3 separate regions of the Homo sapiens genome follow, and regions 1 and 3 are each linked to region 2. Evidence: fine-mapped expression QTL. A gene starts in region 2. Each other region holds a variant in brackets. All regions are shown on one strand. Distances are between the middles of the regions. Region 1 has its middle 55 kb from the start of TNIP3. Region 2 holds the start of TNIP3 (TNFAIP3 interacting protein 3). Region 3 has its middle 90 kb from the start of TNIP3.

The links. PIP is the estimated chance that this variant, and not a neighbour inherited with it, causes the effect. A credible set is the group of variants that fine-mapping cannot tell apart.
Region 1: its variant is the best candidate, but not a certain one, in a credible set for the expression of TNIP3 in blood mononuclear cells (TOPMed, PIP 0.57).
Region 3: its variant is the best candidate, but not a certain one, in a credible set for the expression of TNIP3 in whole blood (TOPMed, PIP 0.52).

Annotation. Positions count from the first base shown.
Region 1 is chr4:121,217,568-121,221,816 of GRCh38, reverse strand. It overlaps a transcript of TNIP3 not described here. Among named protein-coding and RNA genes, the nearest start is that of TNIP3, 55 kb to the right of the region's middle. The variant A/C (reference allele first, on the strand shown) is at 2,412.
Region 2 is chr4:121,162,388-121,166,636 of GRCh38, reverse strand. TNIP3 (TNFAIP3 interacting protein 3) reads left to right here and starts at 2,316. Exons shown (of 11, transcript NM_024873.6): 1 at 2,316-2,577. The coding sequence starts at 2,512.
Region 3 is chr4:121,252,679-121,256,927 of GRCh38, reverse strand. No RefSeq gene overlaps it. Among named protein-coding and RNA genes, the nearest start is that of TNIP3, 90 kb to the right of the region's middle. The variant G/C (reference allele first, on the strand shown) is at 2,363.

The DNA.
Region 1 (4,249 bases), 55 kb before region 2:
GTGATGAAAGTCCCCTGATTTGACACCTTTCTCAGAAATATGAAGTGGAAAAAAAAATAGTTACAGCTCTGTTGGGTAGTTCTTTCTTTTGGTTTAGCCAAACGATGTGCAGCCAAAAATCTCTTTCTTGTTCTCAATTTCCCTTGAGCCATTACTGTAAATGAGAGTGGTGTGTAATTTTCCTCTCCTCCAATTTCTTCCACACTGTAATCAAAGGTCCTTAAGTACCTGTTGGGTATAGGAATCTTATTTGCTAGAGGAAATAAATGAATTAAAATGTGTAACATATCCTTTTTTTGAATATCATTATCATATTCTTAACAACATTGAGCATTTGCCTCATTTTGCATAGAAATTATCTGAAATCTTTTATTGCTGTTTTAGCTTTGTGCTTGTAAATTTAGGTTAGTTTTATAGTCACGTGATCTGCTTTACTGTTCCTGTTTCTAGGCTAAGTGAATTCCTTTTTCTTTTTTAATATTTATGGAGATAAAATGACTGATAGGGAACTTTAAGGATAAAACTTCTTGAACATACAAACTGGCTATTTTATATATTAAGAGTGATTTAGACTGAATATTAAAGATATTATTAGAAAAACATAACCAAGGTTTTATACTAAAAATGTTATAGTTCTTTACATTTCTTTCTTACCAATAATAGCAAGGATCTCAAAATGTTGTCCATTATCATCCACATATTGGCAACAAATATCTCAAGCTTTGGAAACTGCAAAAGGCCATGAGAATTGCTAACAGTAAACCAAAAATTTTTAAAGAGCATTATGTTTTATTTGTTCTCATTGATTTTTTTAAACAGAATTTTAATACCTTTGGGGAGGATATGTCTTCACTTACTCACCACAGCCCCTACCACCACTTGTCACCAATTTATGTCAGCTTCCTGACTCTGCAGGCATTTTCCCACTCTTGACTGAACGTATTGCTCTTTTTCATCCCCTACTCAGCCAAATCACAGCAGGAACGAATCCTGCTGTCCATTCGCTCAGTAAAACACACAGACTGGCACTTAAGGCACGCTGAATGCTCACAGCTAAGGACATTCACTTATTTCTGACTCTAAAAGTTAAGTGGTACGTTTACCCAGGATCAGCTTTGTTTATTCCCCCACGCTATTTATGACAATTTTACTTTTTTGCCATTATATATTTAAATAAAATGTATATAAGCCGATGATACATGAGTACCAAAAGGTTAAAAAAAAACATTGTTTCAGTACAAGCTAGTTTTAGCATCTTGGAAACATCTAGTAAAGGTTAAGTTACCAAATTTGAATTGGATGATGGTGAGGGCAAATACAAAAAAAAAGTAGTTAATTATCATAAAAACCTAAAAGCATTCTGTTTTCAGATTGCTTTATGTCTTAAAATTTTTGCTCCCTTGTAAAGAAACCAAAACTAGAATTCACCAAGGATTTATTGTGGGCCAGAAGACACATGTGGACAACCACTAATAGATCTCTCCTTAGAAAACAGAGCCTAGCAATGATGTTCACCTATGTATTTTCAGTGACATTAAATTAATATGGTATTAATGTATTATTCTTCATGAGTCCCAGCTTTAACTAATATTTTGATTAACTGACTGCCTACCTGTAGGTCTCTTATGTGATCAATAAGAAAGCTTTTCATGTATTCTTAAATGGTATAATGTCATTTCTAAAAAATTAATATAAGTACTTTTATATCTGTAAGCATGTGAATGTACACATATGTATGGTTTTCAGCCTATTACTTTATAGAATCTTTATTATTTATTATATATGGATACAAGGATAGTAATTTTCATGATGGTTTAGTACCTGATGAGGACATTTTATCCTAAATGTATTGAACCTGGTTAACATTTAATGTTAATTTAGTAAAGATAGTGAAATGAAACAGTTTCCAGGAAGGTATTATGTGTTGTAAATTGTATGACCCAGAAAGAAACACATTTTATTTAAATAAATATGCCTTGTCAGCTTCTAGTCCTTTCTACCTTAAGTTTTCATGCATTTGATTGTATGTGAATTACATTTGGACACCTCTCAATGTATAACATAGACTTGAGCAACATAAATGTAAACAATAGTATAAGAATTCGTTGGTAATTTTTTATATAACATTTTCAAGGTCTGTAAAACCTATGTGAGTAAACTTTGAGTATGACTGGTAATACGAACACCCTGCCCTTGAATCTGACTTTAGAAATCCAAGTATATTAAAAGCTGTCACCAGAAATGTCCAAAAGCTCATAAAACTTGGTTAACTTCCAAAAGTAAGTTTATCCTTCAAAGTTGGGTTATTTTGGAACTATGGATTGTGTAAACTTCTGCTTAAACAATCAAACAGCTTATGATCTTCACTGATGTGCTGAAATGCATCCAAGAACAGAGGACATCTTTCGGCT[A/C]AGTGAAACAGAAAGCAACAGCTGCTTCTTTAGCAGTATAGGAATTCCTTAAAAAAGAGGAAAAGGAGGAGGAGGGAGGAAAAAGGAGAAGTAATCAAAAGATGGAAACAAAGACATGTGTTTGCTTTTAGCTTCAGAGGATGCTCAGCCAGTTGGATACTCTTACTTCTATGGGTTTTTTGTTTGTTTGTTTGTTTGTTTGTTTGTAATGGAGTTTCATTCTTGTTGCCCAGGCTGGAGAGCAATGGTGTGATCTCGGCTCACTGCAACCTCCGCCTCCTTGGTTCAAGTGATTCTCCTGCCTCAGCCTCCTGAGTAGCTGGGATTACAGGTGCACACCACCACACCCAGCTAATTTTTGTATTTTTAGTAGAGACACCATTTCTCCATTTTGGTCAGGCTGGTCTCGAACTCCTGACCTCAGGTGATCCACCTGCCTCGGCCTCCCAAAGTTCTAGGATTACAGGCGTGAGCCACCATGGCTGGCCACTTCTGTGGTTTTTAATTGTAAATCTTTTGGTTCTCAGAAATTTTATGTGGCTATAGCTAGGGAAAGTAGTGCACACCTGTAGTCCCAGCTACTCAAGAGGCTGAGGGAGGAGAATTGCTTGAGCCCAGGAGTCCCAGCTACTCAGGATCCTGAGGGAGGGGAATTGCTTGAGCCCAAGAGTTCAGAACTATAGTGCACTGTAATGGTGCCTGTGAACAGCCACTGAACTCTAGCTTGGGTAATATAGTGAGACATCGTCTCAAAAGAAAGAGAGACAGAGAGAGGGAGAGGGAGAAGAAGAGGGACGGGGAGAAGGAGGAAGGAAGGGAGGGAGGCAGAAAGGAAGGAAGCAAGGAAGGAAAGAAGGAAGGAAGGAAGGGAGGGAGGGAGGAAGGAAGGAAAATAAACTATTGGAAATTATAATTATGCCTGGGATATTGACTTTTCTGATTGTCACTGGTTAATATTTTTACTTCCTGGATAGAATAATAACAAATGTAAAATTCTAGCCTAGGAAAAGGCAATTTAGGAAGGAAATACAATGTTCAGTAAACTAATTAATGTCTTTGAGACCATTTCCATCTTGTCTGTTTCCAGTGCCTCTAAGATATTATTTGTAAATCTTAAACTATACAATATTAAATCTGGAGATTTCCCTTTGCACATGCCATTTTTGGGGTGTTTACTACCAGAGTTCAAATAATACAATGACATTGCCTAAGAAATATAGTGTTATGATGTTGTATCTGTAATGTAAAAATTTTGTAGGTTAGTTTTAAAATATATTAGTATTAAAATATATCAGTATCTAATTTTATTTTATTTCAAACTTAAAATTTCCTCTGTATAATTTTCAGTTATGAACAACAATGGAAGATCATGACTAGGAGTCAGATGGTTTGGTGTTTAATCCTAGATCAGTCATTAATTAGCCAAGTCATTTGTTTTCTCTGGAGTTCTGTTTCCTCTACTGTAAAATGATGGCATTATAATTCTTAGCGTGTTCTCCACAGTGTCAGATTCTATCATTCCCTGATACTCCAGGACTCCATGTGTAATTTCGCATATGCTTGGAAATTAGCATTTTAACGGTAATTTTTGAAATAGTGAAAGAATATAAGACATTTTAAAAACCTTACTACAAATTTCTTTATTAGTTAAATATTTAAGCCTTCATGTTTCAGAAATGGACACTTATTGCAGTCACTCTATCAGATGGTTATCACTTGGTTTCCTCTTCAACATATTTGCAGAATTGTGTAATATCTCCAGCGTTCCATATAAACAAGATGGGCAGTTTTGCAATTTTGCATTTTTAAAACATAGCTCTACTAGTTGGTGGTCCAAC
Region 2 (4,249 bases):
TAGTCCTTGTTCCTTTACCACATTTCCCTTTGTTAATTTTAATTTTCTTTCCTCTGTATAATATTTTAGTGACTTCAGAAATGAAGACTCTTCACAACAGCCTTGGAAACATGGAATGACACCTCTGTTTCTCTGAAAGTGATTTCAGCTAGTGATACTTCTCATGAAACAAAGCTTGACTAAAAGCCAGACTCTTAAAATATGTGGCACAATGTGAGAGGGATGGAGGTGAAGTGAACAGAGCATATGTAACAGAAAAGACCCAATTAATTCTTAGGGATGGCATATTGAAAGTCTCATTTTTCTGAAACCAAACTTGTGGCTCTTCAGAAGAGTTATTACTTATTCATAAATAACCATATGGCTCTCTTGAGCTAATAGAAAATCTGTTTGTTGTTTATCTGCATAACAGAAGAGGCAAAGGAATTGTAAAGAAAGAAGCAAAGGTATAGAATTTCCATTTAATAGAAGCCATCACACCTAACAATGTATGTGCATCAGGATATTTTACAGGGGAGACTCAAGAGGCACAATGCCAAGGATGGTATTTCCTGGCAAGAAAATGTTCTTCCCACCCACTTTTCTAGGTCAATGTTACCACATCCCTATACAAATACAAAGTTAAAGCTGAAGAGAACCTTACACTATATAAAACTATGGAGTGTGTATGTGCATGGTATGTTTCAGAAGAAAAATATTCTTACAATAGAGTTTTCTTTTTCTTTTCTGATGAGCAGATTTTAGTGTTGATAAAGTGTCAGTTCAGGAAATCGCTGCTTCTGTACCCTAAAGTCAGATCTTATGTGAGTTATAACTTTTTACTTTCAGAACCCTGAATGAACAATTTGATTCCTACCTGTATTTTTGGATTTTGCCTTAAAGCAGCGTCACTCCCTTTCACTCAAGCGTAGACCCAAACATAACAAGAAACCAGAAGAAAGTAAACACACACACACACACACACACACACACACACAAACTAGCAAAAAGTTCATCGATTTTGTAAATCATTATATAGATATTCATTCATTTATTCATGTAGCAAAATGTGTTGAATGCCTGCTGTGTGCCAGACAGCTCAGTGCCTGGGTGCGTGGACACAGAGATTAACACAAGAACATGGAAATATGTAATCGTAATGCATGATGAAGTGCTCTCCTTAGCTGATTAGAGGAAGTCAAGAGAAGATCAGAAGGAAAGAGAGGCATTGACTTAGGTTTTCCCCGTCATAAGGTTGGATGGAGGGCCCAGAGAGGAGACATCTGAGGTGGCAAGAACAGCATGCACAGAGCTCAGGGGCGTAGAACCATCTCACTCATTTCAGGAAAGGGAGGTCAGTCAGGATGGTTGGAGCACAGGGGAGAGTTGGAGAGTAGGGGGAGATATTCAGGAGAAATGGGAGGGCCAAATGTGGGACACTCAATCACTCTCTTTTGAATTTTAGGAGTTTTAGGCTTTATCCTATATATATGTGAATATCTCGTAGGCAGGTTAATGAAGTTAAATGATTGACCATAAATTCTTTTCTCTTTTTAGTTACACATTCTTTCCTTTTTTGTATTCCTTGCCTCTTTCCTTTTGTTCCAAGTCCAAAATGAGGTCTTCTGTTCCATCGCAGTTCACTTATGCAGCTCCAAGTATCTGCCATTTCCACGCTTTTATCTGTACTACCCAGTAGTGCTCCATTACCTCAAGGCTCCTAAAATGATAACAGTCAAATAATTAAAGTGAAAATGATTCTCCATGAGAAGATTTCACTTCAAATGAGTCATGGAGACAATCTGGACTTGATTTATAGAAAAGACAGACTTAAACTTGAGACAAGTTTAACCTTTCTGCCAATATAGAAGATTAGATTTGCAAACAATGCCCATTTTCTTTACAATGAATTATTTTCCCTTTTATTTCTATAAGAATTAGTGGCACTTATATTATTATGTATTATGAATTATGTATGACTCATTAAGTTCTACCAAGCTACACTCACATTTAGAAGGTATTGCCAGAAAATCTCGCCTTTAGGGAAACCGAGCTGTCAAAAAGTCAACAGTTACCTAATTGCTCTGGGAAATACAATGAATTTATAACAGTTAGGCTACTGAGGAAACACTTGGATTGCCCAGGCTTTCTGTGGTGGAGAACTTCCTCCTCCAGTGGGAGAAACTGCCAGTAAAGGAAGAATGACGATTTACATACTATAGCAAGGCTAATCTGCCCCAGGTCTTAGTCACGGCCTGCCTATTTGAGACATCCTGGGAAATCCCTATTTGGAAGAGAAGAAAAGTTAAAATCCCAGTTGCAGTGCTTATAACTTTATTCTGTGTAATTCCTATCCACAGTCACTTCTGTTCATTTTTAATGAAAACCTATTGCTGTTATTTTCTATTATGAGTTAACGGTGATGTGTGTTTTTTAAATTTTGTATACTTGCTCTCACCCTAAAATATACCTTAAGAGACTTTTCCCCTGTTTTTCTTTCTGCTTTCCAAGACTCCAGGAAAAACAGCTTCCATGGCACATTTTGTACAGGGCACATCTAGAATGATTGCCGCAGAAAGTTCTACGGAGCATAAAGAGGTAAGAACATATTTCTAGGAGATGAGTTGATCACATCTAGCATTGATGGCATTTCTAGTGGTTAATTGTGCACTTATTAATAAGAACAGAAATGGCTAGTTTGCTTTCTTTAGCTAAGATTTGCTCTATATTTTTAACCAAAATTATGTAACATAGAAAAAAATATCTAAGTAACCAGTACATTGCTTTTAACCCACGGGGCTTAAATTCCTTTCAGCCTTCCAGTTCTGTGGGTTCCTTATTTTGTTCTTGATTTTTGTTCTATAAAAATCTTAAAAGAATACTATATTGGTGTAGGTAGAAATAGAACATATTGTAACAATAGAGTATCTGTAGTAATATTTTTATATATTTACAATTGGTACCATAGATTTTGTTCAGCAACAGAGACTACTGCTAATTGAATGAATGAATTCAAATATTTTCTAGTTTTCTTTTACAGATAACCAAGGTATAATGGGAAACTAAATGGAAACTTCTATTCATTTAAGTTTTTAATTTAGTAGCATCAGACCTTGAATATACATTGGTAAGGATGTTATCATAGAGAAAGAAGTGCCCAGATGCTTTGAACAGAAATTCTACTTTATAGGGAATAATTATAGGAAATTATGTATAGGGAATAACTGTTCCGTAAGCAGCCCTTGCTAGAATCAATGACTGAAAATCTTTGTAGTTACTGCAAATCAGATGCCTTCATTAGCAACTGTAAAGCAAAGTAAATACAAATTGAAAAGGTCCCCCAAACCTTTGTATTTGATTAATTTCGCTTTATTTTATAGAAACCTGAGACATATGAACTATAACAAAATGTTGATTAATCTCCAGAGAAAGCTTTGGTGATACATTTGTGACTTACATGCCATTCCTAGTCACTATGTTTTCTATTTTTCCTCCCTCCTATCCTCCCCCACCTATAACTGAATATTACTTATGAATTTCAAAAACTAGTACTCGTGCAGTTACAAATAGAGCCTCTTGCAGATTTGGTATCTAGATTTTCAGTAATTTTTATTTATTAAAGAAAAATCAAGGGTGAAATGTATTATAATTTTCTTCCAGAGAAAATTGTTTATGGGGAAACAAACAAAAAGCACACTGTCTCATTGTTCCACATCTGGGCTCCCAAAGGCAGGGACATACAAATGTTTGCCAATCACGGATTTTTGTCTACATCACAAACAGAGAGGAGACATTTTTGAGGACCCATAATTTATTCCCTAGAATGGGAATATATTGAACTTTAGTATGAATCAAAATTACCTAGGAAATGTATTAGAAATAGAGGTGCCCTGGCTGCTCTTCTAGAAATTCTGATCCATTGTTCAGGATGCTCTATGTTTAGCAAGCTTAACGGTGACTTTGATGTGCTCTTGTGGTGGGAACCACCATTCTAAAATCCAGTCTTACTGTGCCCCTACTTTGCTGATGACCTCAAGATACACTAAGTAGGGTTGGCTCACAGCATTTTCCAGATCAAAGATGCTTAATAGTTAGTCTGTTCTAACCCAGAATGGGTCCAGTTTCTTGGAAGTCTTCCCCAAAAGAAGAAGGTCCAATTACGGGCCCCAACATACTTGACACTTGGGTTTCAGTGTCACTCTTGGTGCTCAGCCAGAACACCTTCTTGAGGTCAAGAGCAAATATAATCATTCAGAATTTATTGACCCAC
Region 3 (4,249 bases), 90 kb before region 2:
TTTTTCTCAAATCAAGAATTCTTTGAAATACAGACCTCTGTATGTGATCCCACTAAAGGCACTGAATAAAGGGAAATGTATAGTAATATTTGAAAAAAAAATCTCTGACCTAGAAAGTCCTTACTTTCAAAGCAATAGGTGTCAGTGACTCATTACTATTGGACTCAAACAGAAGAAAAGGGATGGGGGTTGGGAGGTTCCTATCAAAGCAAAACATAGGACACAGATGAATAAAAATACACACATATATGTTTTATACACATGTTAAACTATCTGCATTTAGGTGGAACTAAAGAGAGTTCAATCATAACTGATTCTACCCTCTTCTGACTCATAAGCAGCATTAAGTAACTTCCTGTACTCTACTGAAATGAGTTTTCTCTCTGCCCACCCCAGCACCCTGTAGCCTGAGAACCTGGCTTCACTTCAGAAGTTGAGTCACTGCCTTTTTCTTAAAGACCATTTCTGCCAACACATTTCTCCATCTAATTTCAGAAAAGAAAGATTCACAAAGTCAAGGAGTCCCATTTGAGTAGTATCTTTTTTTCCCTGGTGCAGCTATAATGCCACCATGCATTTAAGGTCAACATTAAAGAAACAGAAGGGCAATTTTGAGAAGTCATCTAACCAAAGAAAATTAAAATAAAATTCAAATAAAAAGAAAAATATCAATGTTTCAACATCCCTCACAGTTGAATTCAGCTGCAATTTCTAATTTGCAAAAGGAAGTGGTTATTCATCTTAGTTCATAATGCTCCCCAAAGTGCTCAATTTCTCTTGCTTCTCTTAATCACAGACTCTAAAGGGACATGAGAGATGTGGATTAACAATGTGGAGATTTGAAATTGTTTTTAATTTTGGTACTATCAACTAAAATATGTAATCTTTGATTAATTTAAGGAATTTCAAATTGAAAGGAAAGATAATTTTCTTTTCTTTTTCTTTTTCTTTTTTTTTTAAGATGAAGTTTCACTCTTGTTGCCCAGGTTGGAGTACAATGGCATGATCTTGGCTCACTGCAACCTCTGCTTCCCGGGTTCAAGTGATCCACTTGCCTCCGCCTCCTGCATAGCTGGGATTACAGGCACCCGCCACCACACCCGGCTAAGTTTTGTATTTTTAGTAGAGATGGGGTTTCACCATGTTGGCCAGACTGGTCTCGAACTCCTGACTTCAGGTGATCTGCCCACCTCGGCCTCCCAAAGTGCTGGGATTACAGGCGTGAGCCACTGCACATGGCCAATGATTTTCTTAATTCAAGAGCACTATAAATTCATATAGAATTAAGCAATAGACACATTAACAATAAAACATGACTTATCACATGAAGTAAGAAGTTAATTATAGTGAATGTACTCAATTTCAATATTTTTTAAAACTCCAAGAGGAAATTGCTATGTTGAAAATAATAAGTGGTGTACACATGTATGAAAAGGAAGATCATGGGAAATGTGATGTATATGGTTACATCAGATGTACTTCTTTTCCATCCCTGTAGCTATGGTTTGGAGCAGGCTTCAACCAGGTTTGTACAGGCACGACCTGATAGTCTTGCTTTGAGCTATGTCATATACCTCATAGTGTGGCATGGGAAGCCCATGGGAAGCCACTTGGTGCTCACCCACGTGTAACCTGGAAGTACTGAAGAGTTAACACTGATAGAGCATACTTGACAAATGAAGGATGGGGCTGCTGGAAATGCTTCCCCCTTGGATCTTCTAGAGGGACAATTCTGACATTCATTACATAAGGCTCCTCAGAAGGTCCTGCTGGATGGAGCATCAGTTGACCATAGAAGTAACCAACACATGTCAGGCATGGTGGTTCATACCTATAATCGCAACACTTTGGGAGGCTGAGGCAGGTGAATCACTTGATCTCAGGAATTTGAAACCAGCCTGGGAAACATAGTGAATCCCCGTCTCTACAAAAAATACAAAAATTATCCAGGCATGGTGGCATGCGTGTGTAGTCCCAGCTACTCAGGAGGCTGAGGTGGGAGGATCACTTGAGCCCAGAAGGTTGAGGCTGCAGTGGACCAAGGTCATGCCACTGCACTCCAGCCTGGGTGACAGAGTAAGAGCCTGTCTCAAAAAAAAAAAAAAAAAAAAAAAGAAAAGAAAAAGAAAAAAAAAAGGTGACCAACACATTCTTACACTGCCTTTCCCTCCTCTGCTTGACTTCCTGTATCAGCTATCTATTGCCATGCAACAAATTACATAAAAAACTTAGTGATTTAAGACAACAATTTTTTTTTTTTTGAGGCGGAGTCTCTGTCTGTTGCCCAGGCTAAGAGTGCAGTGGCGCGATCTCGGCTCACTGCAACCTCCGCCTGCCGGGTTCACACTATTCTCCTGCCTCA[G/C]CCTCCTGAGTAGCTGGGACTACAGGCACCTGCCACCATGCCCTGCTAATTTTTTTGTATTTTTAGTAGAGATGGGGTTTTACCATGTTAGCCAGGGTGGTCTCGATCTCCTGACCTCGTGATCCGCCTGCCTCGGCCTCCCAAAGTGCTGGGATTACAGGCATGAGCCACTGCGCCCGGCCTAAGACAACAAACATTTATTCTCACAGTCTCTGTGGTCAACTTCAGAAGCAGCTTGGCTGAGTGGTTCTGTCTGTCTCAGGGTCTCTCATGAGGATGCATTCCAAATGTGAGCTAGGAGTGCATTCATCATAAGGCTTGGCTGGGGCTGGAGGACCCACTTCTAAAGTTACTTACAGGGATGTGAGCAGGAGCACTCAGTTTCTCACTACATGGACTGCTGCTCACGAGGTGGCAGCCAGCTTTCCCCAGAGTGAGCGATGTAACAGAGGGCAAAGGAGAGTGCAAGCAGGAAGCCACACTATCTTTAATGACCTAGTTTCAGAAGGGACATACTGTCACTTGTACTGTATGCTACTGGTGACATAGATCACCCCAGGTTCAATGCAGGAGGGGATTACACAAGAGTGTGAATACTAGGAGGCAGGGAACTAGGAGGCCATCTTGCAGGTGAGGCACACTTTCTCTATGCCTCACTCATGATCCCTGGGGTCATTTCAGAAAAAACACTTTTCTATTGACAGCACATTTGTTAAATTCCCCCAAATTCAGATATTGAAATCCTAATCCCCAAGTGGTGGTATCTGGAGGTGAAGGGTTTCACCCTTGGAAAGTAATTAACCATGAGGTTGGAGCTCTTGTGATGGGATTAGTACTCTTATAAGAAGAGACACAAGAGAGTTTGCTTCTTCTCTGTCCCCACCAGGTGAAGATACAGCAAGAAGGCATCTACTCGCAAACCAAGAAGAAGGCCCTCACCAGGAACCGAGTTACTTGCATCTTCATCTTGAACTTCCTGGTCTCCAGAAGAGTGAGAAATAAGTTTCTGTTCTTGACATCACCTATTTCATGTTATTTTTGTTACAGCAACTCAAGTTGACTAAGATACACTTGTATGAAACTCTTTTATCACAGGCTCTAGACTTGGATAAAAACTATGATAACATGGTGAATGATTTTCTCTCTGTGACTTTTCTAACGAGGTAGATCTATACGTGTATATGTTGATATATGGAAATATCTTTCCAAAAGATGTTATTTTGTGCAAAAAGTAAGTTGCAGAACTGTTCTATTGTATGCATAAAACCAAAACATTATAAAGGAAACTTAATAGTGGTAATTTCAGGGGGGAAGGAGATGAGGAAAGACTTTCTAATTTTCATTTTATTATTCTCAGCACTACTTGAATTTTTGAAATATATTTATGTATTCCTTTAAACATAATTTGATTTTTTGGGGTGGTGAGATTGTGGGTCACTTTAAATTTCTCTATAATTATCTATACACAAAAGTATCATAGTGTTTTTAAAAATAACAATTTTAACAGTCAAAGAGACCCTATTTTGTCAGGAACTATTAAAGATGTTCAAGAAATGGTTTAGTTAAAACAGTACATGAGGCCCCTATGTTTAATCTTTCCAGGTAGTGAGCTTCTGTGTTAACCCAATTATTTCACACAACAGAAGCAGGGAGACATTCCAAACTGCAAGAATCCATGCCCAAAGACAGCACACTTCTGTCAATCAGTCATTGTGCTGGCTGGGAGTCGATTCTCTTAACATTACGTTAAACCCGGGAGCACATGGAAGAATTACCTGGAACCATGCTCCAGAATTTTGCTCTTGTCCTCTGTTACTTTTCATGTGTTTCAAATTAACATAAACCCCTCAACAATACAGCACCAAGATAATGTGAATCCTGATAAAA